Linked DNA regions of Homo sapiens. The protein of the gene in region 1 purifies or fractionates together with the protein of each later gene. This does not show direct contact. Each region holds a gene or a part of one and is shown in the gene's direction. Other genes may lie near its edges.

What was found. The genes of interacting proteins can lie anywhere in the genome.
Region 2: the proteins of FMNL1 (region 1) and ABCF1 purify together in Homo sapiens (affinity purification with mass spectrometry, with the first as the bait; one large-scale study listed by BioGRID). This does not show direct contact.
Region 3: the proteins of FMNL1 (region 1) and SIPA1 purify together in Homo sapiens (affinity purification with mass spectrometry, with the first as the bait; one large-scale study listed by BioGRID). This does not show direct contact.
Region 4: the proteins of FMNL1 (region 1) and TIA1 purify together in Homo sapiens (affinity purification with mass spectrometry, with the first as the bait; one large-scale study listed by BioGRID). This does not show direct contact.

Annotation. Positions count from the first base shown.
Region 1 is NC_000017.11:45,242,385-45,245,884, forward strand, and holds part of FMNL1 (formin-like protein 1), read left to right. Parts: coding exon 1-81; intron 82-733; coding exon 734-936; intron 937-1,406; coding exon 1,407-1,641; intron 1,642-1,791; coding exon 1,792-1,860; intron 1,861-2,434; coding exon 2,435-2,515; intron 2,516-2,594; coding exon 2,595-2,724; intron 2,725-2,868; coding exon 2,869-3,032; intron 3,033-3,247; coding exon 3,248-3,349; intron 3,350-3,493; coding exon 3,494-3,500. UniProt on the Homo sapiens protein: May play a role in the control of cell motility and survival of macrophages. Plays a role in the regulation of cell morphology and cytoskeletal organization. Required in the cortical actin filament dynamics and cell shape.
Region 2 is NC_000006.12:30,577,942-30,581,441, forward strand, and holds part of ABCF1 (ATP-binding cassette sub-family F member 1), read left to right. Parts: intron 1-134; coding exon 135-261; intron 262-406; coding exon 407-444; intron 445-528; coding exon 529-636; intron 637-1,989; coding exon 1,990-2,064; intron 2,065-2,464; coding exon 2,465-2,578; intron 2,579-3,500. UniProt on the Homo sapiens protein: Isoform 2 is required for efficient Cap- and IRES-mediated mRNA translation initiation. Isoform 2 is not involved in the ribosome biogenesis.
Region 3 is NC_000011.10:65,644,601-65,648,100, forward strand, and holds part of SIPA1 (signal-induced proliferation-associated protein 1), read left to right. Parts: intron 1-354; coding exon 355-529; intron 530-1,253; coding exon 1,254-1,357; intron 1,358-1,620; coding exon 1,621-1,778; intron 1,779-1,855; coding exon 1,856-2,465; intron 2,466-2,783; coding exon 2,784-3,058; intron 3,059-3,500. UniProt on the Homo sapiens protein: GTPase activator for the nuclear Ras-related regulatory proteins Rap1 and Rap2 in vitro, converting them to the putatively inactive GDP-bound state. Affects cell cycle progression.
Region 4 is NC_000002.12:70,231,629-70,235,128, reverse strand, and holds part of TIA1 (cytotoxic granule associated RNA binding protein TIA1), read left to right. Parts: intron 1-3,500. UniProt on the Homo sapiens protein: RNA-binding protein involved in the regulation of alternative pre-RNA splicing and mRNA translation by binding to uridine-rich (U-rich) RNA sequences.

The DNA of each region.
Region 1 (3,500 bases):
CTCTTGAACTGGGTGGCACTGAAACCCAGCCAGATCACCGGCACTGTCTTCACAGAGCTCAATGATGAGAAGGTGCTGCAGGTGAGTGGCCCTGCCTGGCTCCCCATGTGGGCACCGGAGGAAGAGGGGAGTTGCCTGGATCAGGCTGGGCCCTGGGGGTAGTCATTTTCTCCAAGCCATTTCACAGATGAGGAGGGGGAGGCCCAGGGATGGGCATTAAGCCAGACTGGACCAATACCTCTAACAGGCAGAATCCTGCTTTCCCAAACGCCTTCCCCTCCATCCCTGCAGAGGGGTGCCTCCCCTCACCCCACTTCTTCTGCCTCCAGGCCTCTTTCCTTCCACTTTCCCACAGGCAGCCAAGGCTTCAGCCCTCCTGATTCCACTTCCAGTTTTCCAAAAGGATGTATTCTCTTGCCTCTAGGCCATTGTTCCATTCTGTTTCCTCTGCCTGGAATGTCTTTTCCTTTCTCCTTTTTACCGCTGGCCAGTTCAGCTCTTCCTTTAGCTCTTGTGGCCCCAAGTCTGGATCCCCCGGGTTAGGCGGCCCTCCTCCTCCAGGCTCCCTGTGCTTCCCCTGTGCCTCCCATCAGGGCCTGTGGTCAGGCTGGGTTACTGGTTCTCTGCTGGTGGCCTGGTCAGGGCCAGATGGATGGCTCTAGCACTGTGCTCAGCCAGGAGAGTGCCAGACCCCAGCCCCACCCAGCTCCGCCTCCTCACCCTGTACCTTCAGGAGCTAGACATGAGTGATTTTGAGGAACAGTTCAAGACCAAGTCCCAAGGCCCCAGCCTGGACCTCAGCGCTCTCAAGAGTAAGGCAGCCCAGAAGGCCCCCAGCAAGGCGACACTCATTGAGGCCAACCGGGCCAAGAACTTGGCCATCACCCTGCGGAAGGGCAACCTGGGGGCCGAGCGCATCTGCCAAGCCATTGAGGCGTGAGTGTCCCTGTCCTGGGTTTGTGGGCAGTCCGGCCCCTTTGCTAGGCTGGGGTTGTCAGGCAGATCCTAGTAAAAGAGCCTCAATGGTGAGCTCTTTCATCAGGCTTCATACCAACCCTGGTCCAGGAAACTTGTCCCCATTTTAAGGTGGAGAAAACTCAGTCCATGCCTAAATTAGGATGTCCCACTTCCTCCCTGCCTCTTTGCCTAGCTGTGAGCACCCAGGCTGTGGGATTTACAGCCGGGCGTCCGCCGCTGACGTACGATGGGGACCCTGGCTGCCCAGTTCCCAGTTTCTCTGGATTCCCAGTTCCCAGTTTCTCTGGATTCCTACCTCTTGCTCTCTGAAGCTGTTGGCAAATAGAAAATACTGAAATTCATTTATTCAATCAAGGCAGGGGTAGCCCTGCTCCCAGGGACTGGTGGGTATGGATGATGCCCAATCTCCCCTCTCCTCCCTCTCACAGGTACGACCTGCAGGCTCTGGGCCTGGACTTCCTGGAGCTGCTGATGCGCTTCCTGCCCACAGAGTATGAGCGCAGCCTCATCACCCGCTTTGAGCGGGAGCAGCGGCCAATGGAGGAGCTGTCAGAGGAGGACCGCTTCATGCTATGCTTCAGCCGCATCCCGCGCCTGCCGGAGCGCATGACCACACTCACCTTCCTGGGCAACTTCCCGGACACAGCCCAGCTGCTCATGCCGGTGTGGGCGGAGCGGGCAGGGCGGTGTGACTTGGGAGGGGATGGGCAGGAGGCAACTCCCAGCCTGGGCTGCGGCAGGGAACCTGGGAGTACTTGAGCCTCCAGATGGAGGAGGCTCCAACTTATCTTACCTCCCCCATCCCACCCCCAGCAACTGAATGCCATCATTGCAGCCTCAATGTCCATCAAGTCCTCTGACAAACTCCGCCAGATCCTGGAGGTGAGGGGCCAGGAGGTGGGGCCCACCCTTGCCTGTTCTGGATAGTGTGAGAGGGAGACCCAGGCCCTGCTCACCTGCAATGCAACAAAGATAACATTCCCACTTCTCATGTACATGCTGAGAAGGACAAATCTAAGGGTGGTGGCGAGTGGGAAGGGGTACAGCAGCCGTGTCTGTAGCAGCTCACCTGGGACCCTGCCGGAGGGCTCAGTCCCCTTTAGCGTTGCTCTGTGAGCAACCTCACCTGCTCAGTGGAGGGCCCGGGAACCAGTAGAAATGGCTGGTGGACAGGCAGTGACCACACAGACTAGGAGGGGATGCTGGCAACAAGTTGTGGGTTGGACTAGCAGAGGACAAAATTTGGTGTGCCCATGGTGTTAACCGTGCACATGTGTGAGACCTGTGTGTACACACATGTACATGTGCTGTGGATCTGAGGGGCCTGTGCAGGAGTACAGTAGGGGCTGAGTGTGTGGGGCCTGCTCCTTGCCACCTCTTCTCCTCCTTGTGCAATATGCTTAAGCGGTGTCCTCAGCTCTGGCATTCTGCTGAGCCTTTCTCCTGCCTCTCCCAGATTGTCCTGGCCTTTGGCAACTACATGAACAGTAGCAAGCGTGGGGCAGCCTATGGCTTCCGGCTCCAGAGCCTGGATGCGGTGAGGAGGGGCCCCTGGCTTGGGGACTGGGGCTGGGGACTGGCTGGTGGCCTGTGGCTTACAATGGGTCCTTGTGCAGCTGTTGGAGATGAAGTCGACTGATCGCAAGCAGACGCTGCTGCACTACCTGGTGAAGGTCATTGCTGAGAAGTACCCGCAACTCACAGGCTTCCACAGCGACCTGCACTTCCTGGACAAGGCGGGCTCAGGTAGGAGACACACAGATCCTTGGGTGTGGGGAGGGGCCGTGGGCTGGGGTAGGTTGGGAGAAAGCTAGGGGGCCACAGTATATAATTGGTGGGAGGGCTGCCTCTCCGATTCACTGACCTGATACTGCCCCATCCCTGGCCCAGTGTCCCTGGACAGTGTCCTGGCGGACGTGCGCTCCCTGCAGCGAGGCCTAGAGTTGACACAGAGAGAGTTTGTGCGGCAGGATGACTGCATGGTGCTCAAGGAGTTCCTGAGGGCCAACTCGCCCACCATGGACAAGCTGCTGGCAGACAGCAAGACGGCTCAGGTGCGCCAGGGCTGGCCTCACCTGGAGGTGGGGCATGTAGGAGCACTAGATAGCACAGCCTGGAGGGGTGTGGCCGTAGCTGGGACCCCTTGGGGGGATGCAGCAGGAATGAGGGGCCACCCTGCCTGGGAGGAGCTCAGATCAGGTGGCCAGTGTCCTGAGGGGTACAGGCTGTGAGAGGTCTAAGCTGGGGGGCTGACAGGCTGTGCCCACAGGAGGCCTTTGAGTCTGTGGTGGAGTACTTCGGAGAGAACCCCAAGACCACATCCCCAGGCCTGTTCTTCTCCCTCTTTAGCCGCTTCATTAAGGCCTACAAGGTATTCGGGTCTGGGGCAGGCTGGGAGCCCTGTAGGGCACTGAAGCCTTTCTACTGGGCAGCGGAGGGGTGGGGCTGCTTCTGTTTAGGGGGTGGGTAGGGCAGTAGGGAGGGCCACCCTCATGGAGACTGCCTTGGCCCACAGAAAGCTG
Region 2 (3,500 bases), on another chromosome or scaffold:
TGGGAGGCATCTGGGTTCCACCAACCCCTTTCCAGCCCATGTTGCTCCATTCAGCTGATGGGGAACCCTCTGTGAGGCAGAAATACAGCAGGGGCCTGGGCTTCATTTTCTCACTGTTCTTTTGCTCTCAGCAGCAAAAAAAAAAGCGAGATACCCGAAAAGGCAGGCGGAAGAAGGATGTGGATGATGATGGAGAAGAGAAAGAGCTCATGGAGCGTCTTAAGAAGCTCTCAGTGCCAACCAGTGATGAGGAGGATGAAGGTAAATGACCTGAGGGGGAATGGGTACCTGGAATCCATGAGTCATGGAGAGTGATACCTCATACCCTGATCTTCAAGTTGGATTCAATTGGGGGGCCAGACATTGTAATTCTTTCCTATCTCATGTTCTCCCCCTGTCATTTCAGTACCCGCCCCAAAACCCCGCGGAGGGAAGAAAACCAAGGTAAGCCATCTGTGTGGTAAACGGAGACTCCAAGGATGCAACCTTGACCATCCTACTGACTTCTGTGGCCCTTTCATTCTCTAGGGTGGTAATGTTTTTGCAGCCCTGATTCAGGATCAGAGTGAGGAAGAGGAGGAGGAAGAAAAACATCCTCCTAAGCCTGCCAAGCCGGAGAAGAATCGGATCAATAAGGTGACAGTGGTGGCTCGATCAGTCACTCTCACTCCATTTAGCACCTTCTGGCCATGGTGGAGTAATTTCCCGCTTTTAAACTAGCTCTTCTCGGTCTGTCTTACTTATACTGTTAAAATCATCTTTTTAGAATACATGCCCAGGCTGGGCACAGTGGGTCACGCCTGTAATCCCAGCACTTTGGGAGGCCGAGGTGGGCGAATCACGAGGTCAAGAGATCGAGACCAGCCTGACCAACATGGCGAAACCTCATCTCTACTAAAAATACAAAAATTAGCCAGGCGTGGTGGCGTGCGCCTGTAATCCCAGCTACTTGGAAGGCTGAGGCAGGAGAATCACTTGAACTTGGGAGGTGGAATTTGCAGTGAGCTGAGATTGAGGCACTGCACTCCAGCCTGGGCAACAGAGCAAGACTCAGTCTCAAAAAAAAAACAACAAAAAAAACCATGCCATTTTTATCACTCAGAAATCTACAGTGATTCTGTTGCTTTAAGCACAGAACCTGAAACAAAGCCCCAGGTCCTTGCTCTTCTACTTGTGACTCTTCTGCGTGTGCATCTTAGTCCATGTCCATTTGAGCTCTTGAGAAAGCCTCCAGTGCTAGTGCCACTCACTCTGGTGGCGCACTTGCCTGACTTATAATCCTTAGCCTTGCTGACGTTCCCTAGTTATCTCTTCGCTATCTAGTCTGAAGCTGGAGGGTAGGGTTTTTCTGGGTCTCATTTTTCGTCAGCAGCACTCAATACAGATGGTCTCCAACTTCTGCTTCGGTGTACGATTTTTCTACTTTATGATGGTGTGAAAGTCATACTCATTTAGGGTACTCCTCAACTCATGATGGGATTATATCCAGATAAACCCATCATAAGTTGGAACTATTTTTTTTTTTTTTTTTTTTTGAGACGGAGTCTCACTCTGTTGCCAGGCTGGAGTGCAGTGGCGTAATCCTGGCTCACTGCAACCTCCGCCTCCCGGGTTCAAGTGATTCTCCTGCCTCAGCTTCCTGAGTAGCTGAGATTACAGGCACGTGCCACCACGCCCAGCTAATTTTTGTGTTTTTAGTAGAGACAGGGTTTCACCATGTTGACCAGGATGGTCTCGATCTCTTGACCTTGTGATCCACCTGCCTTGGCCTCCCAAAGTGCTGGGATTACAGGTGTGAGCCACCACGCCCGGCCAAGAACTATCATTTTTTATTTAAGTTTCTGGTGGGTTTATCGGGATGCAACCTGTCGTAAATGGAGGAGCATGTGTATGGTTAACACAGTAGACTCTCTAGAAATGCTTATTACACAGCAAAGTAGCACAATAATTTGTATGTATGTGTGTAATGTGTATGTGTGTCTCCTCCAGGCCGTATCTGAGGAACAGCAGCCTGCACTCAAGGGCAAAAAGGGAAAGGAAGAGAAGTCAAAAGGGAAGGCTAAGGTGAGAGAGTAACTAGCAGGAGGAGGTATTGGGGCCCAGGAATTAAAACATTTCATCAGGGCTGGGCGCGGTGGCTCACGCCTGTAATCCCAGCACTTTGGGAGGCCGAGGTGGGCGGATCACGAGGTCAGGAGATCGAGACCATCCTGGTAACACGGTAAAACCCCGTCTCTACTAAAAATACAAAAAAAATTAGCCGGGCGTGGTGGCGGGCGCCTGTAGTCCCAGCTACTCGGGAGGCTGAGGCAGGAGAATGGCGTGAACCCGGGAGGTGGAGCTTGCAGTGAGCCGAGATTGCGCCACTGCACTCCAGCCTGGGTGACAGAGCGAGACTCCGTCTCAAAAAAAAAAAAAGAAAAAAAAAAAAAACATTTCATCAGACCTGTCTTTTCCCTATTAGCCTCAAAATAAATTCGCTGCTCTGGACAATGAAGAGGAGGATAAAGAAGAAGAAATTATAAAGGAAAAGGAGCCTCCCAAACAAGGGAAGGAGAAGGCCAAGAAGGCAGAGCAGGTGTGTATTTGGTGTTGGGGCAAGGTGGAATGAGGGACTAGGGCTTCCAGGGTCCTTATGGGAGAGTTAGAATCTGGGGATATAGTTATTATCCCAGCAAACCTTTATTCTTTTCTTTTTTTGGGGGAGTAGTTGGGGTGGTGGTTCGTTTGTTTTTGTTTTTGTTTTTGTTTACACAGGATCTTACTCTGTCACTCAGGCTGGAGTGCAGTGGTGTGAACACGGCTCACTGAAGCCTCAACCTCCTGGGCTCAACAGATTCTCCTGCCTCAGCCTACTGAGTAGCTGGGACTACAAGTGTGCACCACTACCCCTGGCTAATTTTTTTATTTTTAGTATAGAGATGAGGTCTCACTATGTTGCTCAGGCTGGTCTTGAATTTCTGGGCTCAAGCAGTCCTCCTGCCTCAGCCTCCCAAAATGCTGGGTTTACAGGTGTGAGCCAGCATGCCAGCCAGCAAACTTTTTCTATAAAGGGCCATATAGTAAATGTTTTTGGCTTTGCAGGCCACATACAATCTCTATCACATATTCTTTTTTTTTTTTAACAACTCTTTGAAAATACAAAAATTATTTTTATAAAGTTCAGGAGCTATATAAAAATAAATGTCAGGTCAGCCTTGGCCCATGGGCTGTAGTTTGCAACACCTAATCCAGTGAAGAAAGGGCCTGGAATTTATCTCAGATGATCTGGGTCCTGGCTCTGCCTTCACTGGCTGTGTGACCTTGAATACATCTTCCCATCCCCTTGGGTCTCACTTGTCTCCTTTGTGTGATAGAAGGAGGAGTCCGGAGATCTCTAGGGTCCCTATGCGTCTGGCACTTCCTAATTCTGTGATTCTGCTGGATTCCTCTGACTGTGCACTAGAGCTTCCTGATCTTTTTTTTTTTTTTTTTTTTTTTGAGATGGAGTCTCACTCCGT
Region 3 (3,500 bases), on another chromosome or scaffold:
GGTGGTGCCTGGCCTGCAGGGGCTGGGGTGGGGGTGCCTTGGATTCAGGGGTGCAGAGGACAGTCCAGCCTTGAGATAAGGAGGATGATAATGTGTATGTTTATTGGAAGGGTCCTTTCTGTGAATCACCTTCTCTACTGCCACATGGGAACCAGCCTCCTCCCATCCCTTCCTACCTGTGCACTCCCAAGCACGAGGAGCACAACAGACTGTACTCACCTGACAGGCAAGGGCACAAGTGGCTCAGAGAGGGCTGGTGCTCAGCCCCAGGCCAGCGTCCCATCCATTCCCTAAGAGCTGGTGGGGTGGGGCTGCAGGGGACTGAGACCTATGCCTTCTGTCTCCCACCCACAGCTGAGCTTCCAACGCAAGGTGGGCATCCTGTACTGCCGGGCGGGCCAGGGCTCGGAGGAGGAGATGTACAACAACCAGGAGGCGGGACCGGCCTTCATGCAGTTTCTCACCTTGCTGGGCGATGTGGTGCGGCTCAAAGGCTTTGAGAGTTACCGGGCCCAGCTAGACACCAAAAGTGAGGCCCAGGGGCAGGAGGGGTGGGAGCAGATCTGTGCTGAAGGGGTGAGCACAAATTGCCTTGTCACTCCTTTGTCCGTACAATCCTGGGGCTGGGGACTGGAGAGTTCTTTGGGTGAGCTAAGGATCTGAGTCAGGGCTATGAGGGCCAAGCTATGGGCTGAAAAGAGGGGCTGGGACTGTCCCTCAAGGCCCAAGTACCCTACTGCCTGAGCTGGGGCTAAAGTGGTTTGGGGGCACTACCCCTCCACCAAACACATTCCAGCAGCTCAGCCTCGTGGAAGAGAGGTGCCCCTACCTCCCTGGTGGAAGGGGCCCCAGGACCCCTGGGAGGTGTTGTACTGAGCACCCCCTGCCTGCTTTTCACTTTCCCAGCATGCCACACATGCTTGGGCCTGGAGTGACACCTGTCCTCCTAGGACACCTGACCCTGCCCTCCCTCTGAGACCACTTCTCATTTCTGTCTTCATTCTATTTCAACTCTCCCATCCTGACCCCCCTTCACTCTGGCATGGGGCTGGAGCCTGTGGAGGGAGAGGAGGAGGGGCACCCAGGGCTGAGGCCCTTGAATCTCGCTGGCTGGGCATTGGCTGGTGGCATGACTGGTTGTCCACCTGCTGTTTGGGGCACAGAGGCTCCTGTGTACAGGCAGGAATGGCAAGTTCAAGCCACTTAGATTCCCCTTGTTTTCTCCTTCTGTGTCCCTAACTTCCTGGCCACAGCGGATTCCACAGGCACGCACTCCCTCTACACCACATACCAGGACCACGAGATCATGTTCCACGTGTCCACGATGCTGCCTTACACCCCTAATAACCAGCAGCAGGTGTGAGGGGGACCAACGTGGGGGTGGGGCTTCCGGGAACCATGGAGGGCCCTGCATGGCCCATGACGTTTGAGCTTTGGCCGGAGCTCTGTTGGCCCCAACAGCCCGCCCCTCTGGTGGCCCCTTCCCAAAGACAGAAACACCCTAGGTCTTCACCAGGGGCAGTGGGGGAGCCATTGGTGCCTTGGCTTTCTCCTGCCTGAATGAGGAGGGGTTTGGGGCACAGAAGACCTCATCACGAGCCCCTACTATCCAACCCCTAGCTCCTCCGGAAGCGCCACATTGGCAACGACATTGTGACCATCGTGTTCCAGGAGCCTGGCAGCAAGCCCTTCTGCCCCACCACCATCCGCTCGCACTTCCAGCACGTGTTCCTAGTGGTGCGGGCACACACACCCTGCACGCCACACACCACCTACAGGTGGGCACCGGAGTGGTCCCAGGTCTCCCGTGGGCATGGAGTCCTGCCGCCCCTCACTAACGCCTCCCTCCCCGCAGGGTGGCCGTGAGCCGCACCCAGGACACCCCTGCCTTCGGGCCAGCTCTGCCTGCTGGCGGAGGCCCCTTCGCAGCCAACGCCGACTTCCGGGCCTTCCTGCTGGCCAAAGCGCTGAATGGTGAGCAGGCGGCCGGCCACGCGCGCCAGTTCCACGCCATGGCCACGCGCACCCGCCAGCAGTACCTGCAAGACCTGGCCACCAACGAGGTGACCACTACGTCGCTGGACTCGGCTTCACGCTTCGGCCTGCCCTCCCTGGGTGGGAGGCGCCGGGCGGCCCCTCGGGGCCCAGGCGCCGAGCTGCAGGCAGCGGGCTCACTGGTGTGGGGAGTGCGCGCGGCGCCCGGGGCGCGGGTCGCCGCCGGGGCTCAGGCGAGCGGCCCCGAAGGCATCGAGGTGCCCTGCCTGCTGGGCATCTCGGCCGAGGCTCTGGTGCTGGTGGCGCCGCGCGACGGCCGCGTAGTGTTCAATTGCGCCTGTCGCGACGTGCTGGCCTGGACCTTCTCCGAGCAGCAGCTGGACCTGTACCACGGCCGCGGGGAGGCGATCACGCTGCGCTTCGACGGGTCCCCCGGCCAAGCCGTGGGCGAGGTGGTGGCGCGCCTGCAGGTGAGCTGGAGTGGTAAACTGGGGCCCCTGCGCGCGGCGGGGCGGAGCCTGCTTTGGACCCCTCCCTCCCGCCGCCTTTGTCCCCTACTCCTGCGGAAGGGAAAGTCGAGGAGGGCAGAGCCAGCCCCGGGGCTTGGCAAGGCCGGAACTGGTGCCCTCGGGTAAGCGACTTCTGGTCTTCATCCCTCGGGCGGTGGCACACGCGGCCCTCGGGGACTGTGGAAAGTTCCGTGTGGCCTGGGACGCAGTCCAGGGGGCGGGCGCTGGGGCGGCCCCACCTCCCGGCAGCCCCGCCCACTCGTCCCGCCCCGTCCGCAGCTGGTGAGCCGTGGCTGCGAGACCCGCGAGCTGGCGCTGCCCCGCGACGGTCAAGGCCGCCTGGGCTTCGAGGTGGACGCCGAGGGATTCGTCACGCACGTGGAGCGCTTCACATTCGCCGAGACGGCGGGGCTGCGGCCCGGGGCGCGCCTCCTGCGCGTGTGCGGCCAGACTCTGCCCAGCCTCCGGCCCGAGGCCGCTGCCCAGCTCCTGCGCTCGGCGCCCAAGGTCTGCGTCACCGTCCTGCCCCCCGACGAGAGCGGCCGGCCCCGCAGGTCAGGGTGCCGGGGACGCGGGGAGGTGGGAGGGCCGGCAGTTGGCCACCGCGCAGTCTGCGCCTCCCGGGTCGCCATCAGCAGTTTCAGGAACCCAGTGTGGATACCTTTCCTTCTGGAAAGAATCTCCCGTCTCTTAGCCCGTCTGAGCCTGTCTCTTCCTGTCTCTGTCTCTCTCTCTTTCTCTGTCCTTCCTTCCTCTCTCTCTCCTCTCTCTTTTTTTTTTTTTTGAGACGAAGTATCCCTCTTGTTGCCCGGGCTGGAGTGCAATGGCGTGATTTCGGCTTACTGCAACATCCGCCTCCCAGGTTCAAGCAGTTCTCCTGCCTCAGCCTCCCTTGTAGCTGGGATTACAGGCATGCACCACCACGGCCGGTTAATTTTTTCTATTTTTAGTAGAGATGGGGTTTCACCAAGTTGGCCAGGCTGGTCTCGAACTCCT
Region 4 (3,500 bases), on another chromosome or scaffold:
TTTTTAATGGGAAAGGCTATGTTAAAGAGAAATCCTTTTGTCCCATGGTCTCTCTTTTCTGTAAACTTTTCGTTTGTTTGTTTGTTTGTTTGTTTGTCTTGAAAGACAGGGTCTTGGTATAGCCATTGCACCCAGCCTGCTATAAACTTTCAGTTTTCTTTTCTCCAGAAAAGACAATCATGTATGTGTGTATGTGTATCTGTTACCTTCTTTCCTGTTGTATTCCAGTTCAACTTTTTTTTACTTAATATTTTTAAAAGTAATTATTTAGCCGGGCACAGTGGCTCACACCTGTAATCCCAGCACTTTGGGAGGCCGAGGCAGGCAGATCATGAGGTCAGGAGTTCGAGACTAGCCTGACCAACATGGCGAAACCCCGTCTCTACTAAAAATACCAAAATTAGCCGGACATGGTGGCAAGCGCCTGTAATCCCAGCTACTCAGGAGGCTAAGGCAGTAGAATTGTTTGAACCCAGGAGGCGAAGGTTGCAGTGAGCCGAGATTGCACCATTGCACTCCAGCCTGGGCGACAGAGGGAGACTGTCTCAAAAATATATATTTATCCAATTGGCTTTGATTTGTTGTCTTAGATCTTAAAATGTTGTCAGACCTTTGTTCTGATGCTGCAAAATCATCTGCATATTATATAGATGAAATCAACAAAGAGTTATGTTCTTTTATTCTATCACATTTAATATCGGTATGCCTTTGGATAAAGGAGAAAAAATCCATGTACCCATAGAGAAAGACAGGAGGGAAAGATGGGGAAAGATGAAGAGAAATTTAAAACCAGTCTTTCCTTAATCTAGATCTCCTTACTTATCCCAATGGTAGCATTTATGGAAAATTTGCTGCCTGTCAGTTACTTTAATACATTGTCATAAATGCTCAATAGAAACATAAAGAAGGTGTTATTTTCATTTCATGTATGAGGAAATGAGGCAAAGCAAGGCTGTAAACCCTAATTGATTTATCCGAATATAAATCTTCTCTGTTGGTTTGCCTGCTGCTACTCTCTCTCTGGCTGGTCATATGTTTCCCTGGGGAAAGATCATTAGACAAAACGTTAATGATTGCCTTGGCTACAGAAAAAACCAGGTTAGCCTTTGCCACTTTTTATCATTTGTGGATTCTGATCGCTCAAAAGCTTAGATTTTTATTATTCAAATCTAAATTCCAGTCTGTTCACATTCTGAGACTAATGTTCACATTTATAAATTTTATGCTCCCTGGACTGATAATATGTATATATGCTTCGATTCTTATTTAAAAAGTTAGTTTTTTCTGCATATAAATTAAGTAAAGCATATTCTTTTTCATTTATTTACTCTTAAATGCAAGTGACTTTTTCTTTTTTTTTTTTTAGACAGAGTCTCACTCTGTTGCCCAGGCTGGAGTGCAATGGCATGATCTCAGCTCACTGCAAACTCTGCCTCCCAGGTTCAAGCTATTCTCCTGCCTCAGCCTCCTAAGTAGCTGGGATTACAGGCATGCGCCACCACACCTGGCTAGTTTTCGTATTTTCAGTAGAGACAGGGTTTCACCATGTTGGCCAGGTGGTCTTGATCTCCTGATGTCATGATCCGCCCACCCCAGCTTCCCAAAGTGCTGGGATTACAGGCGTGAGCCACCACAGCCAGCCGCAAGTGACTTTTTCTAACTTCATTTCAGTGTTGCCTGTCAGCATTGATCTTGGTAATAGAATTCCCATTGTGTTTTATTAGTTTGAGTTATATAACATTTTTATTCTCTAATTTTTTTAGACAAAATATAGTCCCAATATATTAAACTTTGTCTTGGCCTCGTTGCTTTAAAATTTTTACAAGTCATTGCCAGTGACTCTCAAACTATTAATTGTTGATGTGCACAGTGACTGATGCCTGTAATCCCAACACTTTGGGAGGCAGAGGCTGGAGGATCACTTGAGCCCAGGAATTTGAGACCAGCCTGGGCAACATAACAAGACCACATCTCTAAAAAAAAATTAATTAACTGTACTTGAAATAAAATTGTATATTCCTCTATTTTAGTAGCTTTCTAGTCTTTTGAATTAGTTTTTTATTTTAACAAATCTGTTTAGGAGGCTATGGAAAGAATTTTAAAATGGCCTATAATGTCATTTGATATTTTGCACTGTAGGTGTAAAAATTGGAATTTTTTTCTGCTACTTGAATTTATAATTAAACATCCAGGTTCTATTTATCACATAGCCTCACCTACCTGGAACACCAGCAGAAAAGGGAAGTTTTGTTTTTTTTTTTGAGACAGAGTCTCGCTGTGCGCCCAGACTGGAATCCAGTGGCACCATCTTGGCTCACTGCAACGTCCCCCTCCTGAGTTCAAGCGAATCTCCTGCCTCAGCCTCCCGAGTAGATGGGATTACAAGCACACGCCACCACACCCAGCTGATTTTTGTATTTTTAGTAGAGATGAGGTTTCACCATTTTGGCCAGGCTAGTCTCGAACTCCTGACCTCAGGTGATCCACCTGCCTCATCCTCCCAGAGTGCTGAGATTACAGGCATGAGCTACTGTGCCCGGCCAAGGGAAGATAATTTTTTTTTTTTTTTTTTTTTTTTTTTTTTTTTTGAGACAGAGTTTCACTCTTGTTGCCCAGGCTGGAGTGCAATGGCGCAATCTCGGCTCACCACAACCTTCGCCTCCAGGGTTCAAGCGATTCTCCTGCCTCAGCCTCCCGAGTAGCTGGGATTACAGGCATGCACCACCACGCCCGGCTAATTTTGTATTTTTAGTAGAGACAGGGTTTCACCATGTTGGTCAGGCTGGTCTCAAACTCCTGACCTCAGGTGATCAGCCCACCTTGGCCTCCCAAAGTGCTGGGATTACAGGTGTGAGCCATCATGCCTGGCTGGGAAGATAATTTTTTTTCTTTTTTCTTTTTTCTTTTTTTTTTTTTTTTTGAGACAGAGTCTCGCTCTGTCGCCCAGGCTGGAGTGCAGTGGTGCAATCTCGGCTCACTGCACACTGCAAGCTCCGTCTCCTGGGTTCACGCCATTCTCCTGCCTTAGCCTCCTGAGTAGCTGGGACTACAGGCGCCCGCCACCAGGCCCGGCTAATTTTTTGTATTTTTAGTAGAGACGGGGTTTCACCGTGCTAGCCAGGATGGTGTCGATCTCCTGACCTCATGATCCGCCTGCCTCGGCCTCTCGAAGTGCTGGGATTACAGGCATGAGCCACTGCGCCTGGCGGGAAGATAATTTTTTAAAGGCTTCTGAGCAAGCAAAAAATTGATGTCAGAAAGTTCACATTCTAAAACTTATTCTAAAATTTTACTTACCAGAGAATCTCTTCAGTTTTCAGAGCCTATTTACCTATATTTTAAAACAGGTTTAAGAAGGTTGGCTAAGATTTTCTGCTACTCAGCAAGCTAGTAGCAGCAAGGAGCAATGTACATTTGTAGCAGTAAAAAGTAACTTATAACAGGGAGGGGATAGAAAAATCATAAAAAGCCGAAGTGAGACTTCAGAACTTAGGAGTTCA